Homo sapiens: one gene and its partner. The protein of the gene in region 1 purifies or fractionates together with the protein of each later gene. This does not show direct contact. Each region holds a gene or a part of one and is shown in the gene's direction. Other genes may lie near its edges. The genes, in order: PRH1 and EHMT1.

Region 1 (4,450 bases):
TTTCTAGGTATCACAGAGCAATCAGCAGCTGAGGAGAGAGCGACAAAACCAGGACTCTGACAGGGCTTTTTGGAAACTTAATTTTTGGAGCAATCAGCAGCTGAGGAGAGAGCTACCAAACCAGGACCCTGACAGGGCTTTTTGGAAACTTAATTTTTTATTGTCAAATTATACAGACAAAAATGAAAGTAAAGGTAGTGAGGAGTACCACACACCTTTACTTAGAAGGATAAATAAAGGACACCTTTGTAGGGAGAAAAAAAAAGATATAGGACGAAAAGTAAACATGGCAAGGTAGACTCAGAATACAAAATTTCAACAAATAAGTGCGAGAAAAAGAATGAGAAAGAATGAGTATTGGAATATTACAGATAAAAATCCTTGGTGAGAAAGAACACTCTGATGAAACAGGTGACATAATTACTGAGTAAAAGCAGAAGACCAATCAAGGCAATTGAGGCTTGGACAGGTATTACAAATTATCTTAGATGAATGTATAATTGTGGCCATTTAATTATCAGTGATGACAATTACAATATTTATTAGAAGAAATAAAGTAGAGGATGAATTCTATGGAATATTCTGGAGAAAGTGGAGGTCTTAGCTATATGACATCGTGTGGCTCACTTAGGGAACCATATATTCAGTTTGTTCAGGTCTAGAAATTCCTTGGTGGTTTCTGAGTTCAGTTTTGCTTTAATAAACCCTAAAGATATTTTTAAAATACAAATATTTTAGCTTGCCTGTGTTGTATAGCACCAAGGCTTGCCTGAGTGTAGTGAGATTCACAGAAGTTTGGACAATTCTTGTAGCCTGAGCAGGCTGCCAGCACCTTTCTCTCATATATGTGTGCCTGGGAGTGTGCTGTCCTCACACATCTCACAGATAAGCAAGACCATCTCTGTTACATGAAAAATTTAGCTAAATGTGAAAATATCCACGCACACACATCATGAGAGATGGAAAGAGGCTATCAAAACAGTCAGAGATATTGACCATCTTCACTGTTAGCTGTAGGATCAGTGTCCACCCCCCGACACACCCACACAAACTCACATACACAGAAATGAAAAGCACAGTGAAAAGCAGAATAGCAGTCTTTCCAAACAGATTGAAAACCAAAAGATGTCTAAAGTTCAATCCTGACACTGTGCCGACTGCTTGGACACAGTTCCGTCAAAACATTTGTCCAAGTCATAGTTGTGCCTTTTAGGAATTAGACACAAACAATATCCTACCCAACCCTTCCTGCTGAGCTAGAGTCCCAAAAGAAATGAGGGATACACTTGACCTGAAGTAAGCAAAGCAGAAGCCAGTCTCTGAGGCGAGGAGGCCCACCTGGTAGGGAGCTCAAATGCACCATTGTCCTGCTTGTCTTTATAAAGGGAGCTGACACGTTTCTCCCAGCACAAAGTTGGGAGTGACACCAGAGCCTCCTGCAAGATGCTTCTGATTCTGCTGTCAGTGGCCCTGCTGGCCTTCAGCTCAGCTCAGGATTTAAATGAAGGTAAGATGAATTGGGGGAAGATATTGTGACTCTGATTGGGGTTTACAGGCAAATGCTATAGAGGAGGAAAGTGGAGGGAAGAGAGGAGGATGAGAAAACAGATGGGACTGCAGAGTTCTCATGCTGAGGATCAGAAGATCTATTGTACCTCCATTCCTCATCAAGGCCTCATAGTTTATTTGTTGCACAAATAGAATCCAATAAAGAATTCGTACTAGGGGTGTGAGAGAGTGAGATTTGCATTATATAGAGACATGGGACTGCTGTGAAGGATGTGGAGAATGCAAGACAGATTCAGGGAAGTACAGCTGTGAAGATCCTGTACTGATCCCAGTAGACAGGGATGATGGTGGCCTTGCTGTACAGTGGATGAGCATTAATGAAGGAGATAAACACATGTCAGAGCTACTGCCGAGGCAGAGAATTGGGTAAACACTTGTCTCTGTCTACATAGAGTTAGAGAATAACCAGAGTGAAACATTGTCATTTTTCTGTCTCCTGAATGTAGTATTTCAATGTGCTGGGAATGGCATGCGTAAGATTATATCCAAGTGGCTATGTCTGGTGGCTCCTGTTGAGAAGGCTTGCAAACATAAACAACATATTTACAGATGAAAGAGGGCAGAAGAATCCCCAAATATGTCATTGAAATACTCAGAGCAGTTTAACTAAATAAGCGCTAAGGGTTTACAGGCAAATGCTATAGAGGAGGAAAGTGGAGGGAAGAGAGGAGGATGAGAAAACAGATGGGACTGCAGAATTTTCATGCCGAGGATCAGAAGACCTATTGTATCTTCATTCCTCATCAAGGCTTGGGGAATCAAAAGAGGACAAACAGGGGCCCTTCTATGTTGAGTTCCTGGTTGACGCTCAGTGTAGTAACAATACTGCTTTCCCTTACATCTTCTTCCACTTCCAGTAGCATCAGAGAGTGGCTGATGAGATCACAAAGGGGATGCACAGGGTGTGATCAGAGGTCCTTTATCCTCGTAGAACACTATGAGCCTTGAATGATTCAGGAAGTAACTTTTCCCATCATCCTGTACTTCTTTTCTAGATGTCAGCCAGGAAGATGTTCCCCTCGTAATATCAGGTAAATCCCAATAAATTCTCAGTAAACTCTGTCTCCATTTTTCCCTGAAAAATTGATGAGTTCTCCAGTGTCTTCTTATCACCATTTTCTTGTCAGGAATTGGCTAATACCAATGCCCCAAAGATACAAACAGTTTTCTCCCAACCTTGATTCTGGGGACCATGAGTAAAGAAATTCAATTTTTCATCACCCTTATGTGGATTAAGAGGAGTTCTAATTAGGAAGCCTTGGGAAGGGGGGAGGTTGGGAGTTGAGAGGCAGGTCAGGCAGAGAGGGGCCGGCCGTGTGGTGAAGACAGAGAGGTATGAAGACAGGAGGGTTTTCCAGCATGAGCTCAGCTCTTCTTGTTTCAACTCACACAGATGGAGGAGACTCTGAGCAGTTCCTAGATGAGGAGCGTCAGGGACCACCTTTGGGAGGACAGCAATCTCAACCCTCTGCTGGTGATGGGAACCAGGATGATGGCCCTCAGCAGGGACCACCCCAACAAGGAGGCCAGCAGCAACAAGGTCCACCACCTCCTCAGGGAAAGCCACAAGGACCACCCCAACAAGGAGGCCAGCAGCAACAAGGTCCACCACCTCCTCAGGGAAAGCCACAAGGACCACCCCAACAGGGAGGCCATCCCCCTCCTCCTCAAGGAAGGCCACAAGGACCACCCCAACAGGGAGGCCATCCCCGTCCTCCTCGAGGAAGGCCACAAGGACCACCCCAACAGGGAGGCCATCAGCAAGGTCCTCCCCCACCTCCTCCTGGAAAGCCCCAGGGACCACCTCCCCAAGGGGGCCGCCCACAAGGACCTCCACAGGGGCAGTCTCCTCAGTAATCTAGGATTCAATGACAGGTACGATTCCAGTTTATTATCCATCAAAGGCTCCAACTGCTACAGTTCTCCAACTTCATTGTGCCAATGAATCCTCTGAAAACCTGTTAATATTGCCCTGTCCTGGAACACATTTCTAAAAATTGTTATTCAGATATTCTTGTATAGAGTATCAAGACCCTGTGACCCTGTGTTTTACAGAAGCTCTTGAAGGCAATTCTGATTTTGAGAATCACTATCTTCAAATTACATGTCTTAAGTAGGGTTGACAATGAGGACATAGAACCATGTTCCCCCTTTGGCTCTCTCTATTTTCTTTCCTCAAACTCAGACTCCCATTTAAAGTTTTCACCTGAACATGCTTTGCTCAGTCCTGCCTCACATCAGGCTTTCAGGTCCAGTATTCCTGCTAAGTGGTCCTTGAACTTTCAGTTGTAAAATGGTATCTCATTTTTAGTATACTTACATTTAAAGTCATACATGCTTAAGCTAACAAAAACTAATCTCACTGAACCGAAATGTACAGAGCTAAATAGTAAGAGCCTAACTCATCTTTCCTCCCTTCTATCCTTCTCAAAACCCCCACCTTTTACTCTTTGGAATCTACTTTTTGAAATATATATTGCTACATAAATATATATAATGCTTTTATTACAAGCACTTATACCATACTGTATATTCAGATTTGTGTCTTACTCACTGGAAAAATTTATTGTTTAGAAAACTTTCTCATGAGTTCATTTAGATCTCTTCAGTGTTTATTGGTTAGTTTGTTTTTACAATTGTATACTATTCTATTGTTTGGTTGTTCCGTAATCTATTTAACCAATCCCTGTCACTGGATATTAAGGCTGGATTCACATTCTCACTATTATATGATATGTTGCAGTGCCCATCTTTGTAAAAATAGCCCTTACATAACCAACAGCAGCAAAGCATGAACACATAACAATAATTGTTTCTCTTTCTCATCTAAGCAACACTTTAAATCACATTATGTGCAATGGCTTAAAGAGTGAACAAAGAA
Region 2 (3,500 bases), on another chromosome or scaffold:
CAAGGTGAGGGCGGCCTCGTGTGCGTGGGCTCAGGTGGTAAGTGCCGCTGGTCCGGGTCTGCAAAAACAGTGCAGGCGTCTGTGACCCCAGCGCTGTCGTGGCAGCGTCGGGAAGGAGTTGGAGGTGAGCTGGGTGTGACAGGCAGGGGAGGCACAGCGGGCACCAGCACCCGAGTCAGGGTCGTGAGCCGAGGACATGGCTGCGGATTCCCTGGGGCTGGGGTCTGCATCCTTTGTGGCTGCCTGGATGGTGGCGGGGGTGGGCAGCGTCAGCCTGGCTTGGCCCCAGGAGGAGGTGCTGCTTATGTTGTGTGTATCTGGTAAGCTGTGCCTTGTGCTTGCTGAGTGTGAGGGGTGTGAAGAGGGAGGGTGCTGCCGGGCTGGGTACAGGGAGCATCAGTGTGGGCGCTGGGCTTGAGGAGACACAGGATTGGAAGTTTCTGTTGGGTGCTGGTCCTCGGAGGAGCCCAGGTTGGAGGCTGCTGAGGAGGAGACGGGAGTGGGGAGTAGCCCTGGCTAGCAGGGGTGCAATTCAGGGGAGGGATGTCTAAGCAGAGGCGGAGAGTTCCTGGTCTCCCGAGTTCAGAGGTCACGGTGGGGGCGGAAGCCAGCATGGCCTGGGTAAAGAGACGCGAGCAGGGAGAGGCAACAGGCGTCCCCTCTGGAAGCAGACTTTGGAGGAGAGTGGACATGGAGGGTCAAGTGTTTACCCATCTGAATTAGAGGCTCCAATGGGAAAAGGATTCGTGCCAGTGAGGGCTATGGAGATGGTACGCTCAGAAAGCCACCAAGCTCATGTCCGAGTGGTGTCTTTTCAGGTGGACAGTGTTGCTGAGGGGGCGCAGGAAGGAATGTTCTGAGGAGCGCCCTAATTGTTCAGAGCAGCCCCTGAAGCCGTCAAGCCAGAGTGTGCCTGGGCAGCCCTGGGCCCCGCGCCTCAGCTCACACAGCCCTGGGGGAGCATCTGCACCCAGTGCTGCTGTACCTGGCCTGGCTTCAGGGGGGTAGAAAGGGGAGCAGAGGGCTGGGTCCCTCCACAGTTGAGGATTTGCAAGGCAAGGAGGCCAGGAGTGCAGGAGGGTGCAGGAGGCCCCAACCAGCTGAAGAAAGCAGAGCAACCCAGGAGCTGGCAGCCTCGGTGAGGCTGGAGAAGCCCAGGCTGGGGGCTGGGAAGGCCCTGGGTGGACAGAAGCTGGCCCCAGGCTGGGCCTAGGGGAGCGCTCCAGGGGGTCTCCACAACCTGTGTGGGCATCTGGGTGGAGGCTTCTCATCCAAACCGTACACATGGAGTTTTTCCCTAGGTGGGTGTTCAAGTTTGGCCAGAAACCATCGTTTTTATGTCCGTTTAAGCCACACTGGGCACTTAGTAGAAATGGGTTGATGTCAGTTCAATTAAAGAGTGAGTAACCTCTGCTGGGCCCTTGCTGCTCATCTGTCCACAGGATGGCCGGCTCCTGCCAGAGTTCAACATGGCGGAGCCTCCCTTGATCTTCGAATGCAACCACGCGTGCTCCTGCTGGAGGAACTGCCGAAATCGCGTCGTACAGAATGGTCTCAGGTGAGAGGCAGCTTCCTGCCGGAGCCCCACATTCTGCTCGTATTAGCACGTATTAGCACGGAGGTCACCCCGACAGACAAGAACTTAACGTGTTTGGATGCACGCACATGTGTGTTTGCAGATAGAGCCGACAAGTTACCTGAGCCCTTTATCCTCTAGAAATGTCACTTGTGCCATAAATCACGAGTCATGCTTCCCCCAGCACAGACTTCGGCATGAGAGAAGGAGCAGGTTGTTGGGTCAGTCCAGCTAAAAGCAGAGGAACGGACTTGGCCTAAGAATTACCTTTGTTACCGAGTTCATGCGAACATTCTTCAACAGGTTAGGGCTGTCGTAGTTCTATTTTAATACTCCAGTCATTTTCTAAATATTCTCTGTTCTCTGGGCTTCCCTAACAGTGAGGTGATGTCCCAACGCTTCTCAGGCTGCGTGGACTCCTTGTTCCTGGGTTGCTCAGGACGCTCATGGAGTAAGGCTTGCCCAGCGCCCTTCCCCAGCTGGGCTTGGTCCCCTGACCGCCCAGCAGCTGCGTCTCCTTTCCCTGGATTCTGGTCTTGAGCATTTCCTCCGCAAATGTGCCCGAGATTGGAGAAGTCAAAGCTCCTCTGAGTCATAAGGGAAAGTTATGCACACTTAAATTTAGCTGAACACTCATTTTTATAGTATTGACTTTTTTGTGACCTCGATAAACTTGGTTCATGGTGAAAGGCAGTCTCTGTCCTTGGTATGGTAGAAAGGCCTGGTGGTGAGGACCCACGCCAGACAGACGCGAGGCAGACACGGGACACATGCCAGATGGGCAGACGCGAGGCACGTGGTTCTGAGGGCTCCTCAGAGGCCCACATGCCAGGACCGCCCAGCCGCCCTCCTCCAGATCTACCCGGCCACCCTCCCCCAGGCCTGCCCAACCACCTTCCCCCAGCCCTGAGAAACCCTCGACCGCCACCTCCCCTGCCACCCTCCCCCAGCCCTGAGGGGCCTGTGGGCTCCTTGTCGGGAGCAGGCTGGGCTGCAGGTGTCACCACAGCCTGGTCCAGCTATAGGCTTCTCTAGTATTAGCACCTCTGCCCCTCACAGTGCCTAGTGGCCCAGGCCCAGCTCTGTCCCCATGTTACAGATGGGGACACCGAGCCACGGCCAGGACCAGTGACTTGCCGAGGTTGTGGGCTGGGGTGCTCCTGGCTGATCCCCGGGTTCTTGGCTCCCTGAGAGTGCGAGATGCCGTGTCTGTGAGGTGCCTGCAGCATCGAACGCTTCGGATACAGAACCAGTTTTCTTCCTCATTTCAGTGACGTGGCACCAGCTGGCTTTTGCTGACCATTGTGGCAACAGGCTGAGGCTGTGGCCTGGGTTCACCACTACTCTCTATTTTTCAGGGCAAGGCTGCAGCTCTACCGGACGCGGGACATGGGCTGGGGCGTGCGGTCCCTGCAGGACATCCCACCAGGCACCTTTGTCTGCGAGTGAGTGAGTCCCTGGGTCACCCCAAGCCTGGTGTCATTTCTGGGACGGAGGCCCATCTGTGTCTGTACTTCAGGAAGCCCCTCTGGGAGCAGGCACATCCCTGGCGTACAGCAGCGTGGGGTGGGGGCCACAGAGACCCTGGCCCCGAGAACCAAGCTCGTGCTGTCCTCAGTCCTCTTGCTGCTGCCCGTAACCAGCCCAGGAGTGCATTTAAGAAGGCGTGGTCCAGTTAGGAAGGCGTGGTCCAGTTAGGAAGGCGTGGTCCAGCATGGGCAGTCATCTCTAGGGGAGGACCATTCTGGGTTCTCAGGTACCAGACCGCAGACGCAGAGCTTTCGGTATCGTTATCATCATCCTCCGGACCCTCAGCTGAAACCCCAGTTCAACCCTGGGCACACCTCTCTAAACATGTTCCCTGCATGTTCTTCTGGTGTGCCCTGCTCTTTCCCTGTGGCTGCGGAGTCTGGGCTGTGCTTGT

The links.
Region 2: the proteins of PRH1 (region 1) and EHMT1 purify together in Homo sapiens (affinity purification with mass spectrometry, with the first as the bait; one large-scale study listed by BioGRID). This does not show direct contact.

What each region holds. Positions count from the first base shown.
Region 1 is NC_000012.12:10,881,211-10,885,660, reverse strand, and holds the start of PRH1 (salivary acidic proline-rich phosphoprotein 1/2 isoform a preproprotein), read left to right. Parts: upstream 1-1,405; 5' UTR 1,406-1,443; coding exon 1,444-1,507; intron 1,508-2,564; coding exon 2,565-2,600; intron 2,601-2,962; coding exon 2,963-3,426; 3' UTR 3,427-3,444; intron 3,445-4,450. UniProt on the Homo sapiens protein: PRP's act as highly potent inhibitors of crystal growth of calcium phosphates. They provide a protective and reparative environment for dental enamel which is important for the integrity of the teeth.
Region 2 is NC_000009.12:137,814,505-137,818,004, forward strand, and holds part of EHMT1 (histone-lysine N-methyltransferase EHMT1), read left to right. Parts: coding exon 1-4; intron 5-1,442; coding exon 1,443-1,558; intron 1,559-2,934; coding exon 2,935-3,021; intron 3,022-3,500. UniProt on the Homo sapiens protein: Histone methyltransferase that specifically mono- and dimethylates 'Lys-9' of histone H3 (H3K9me1 and H3K9me2, respectively) in euchromatin.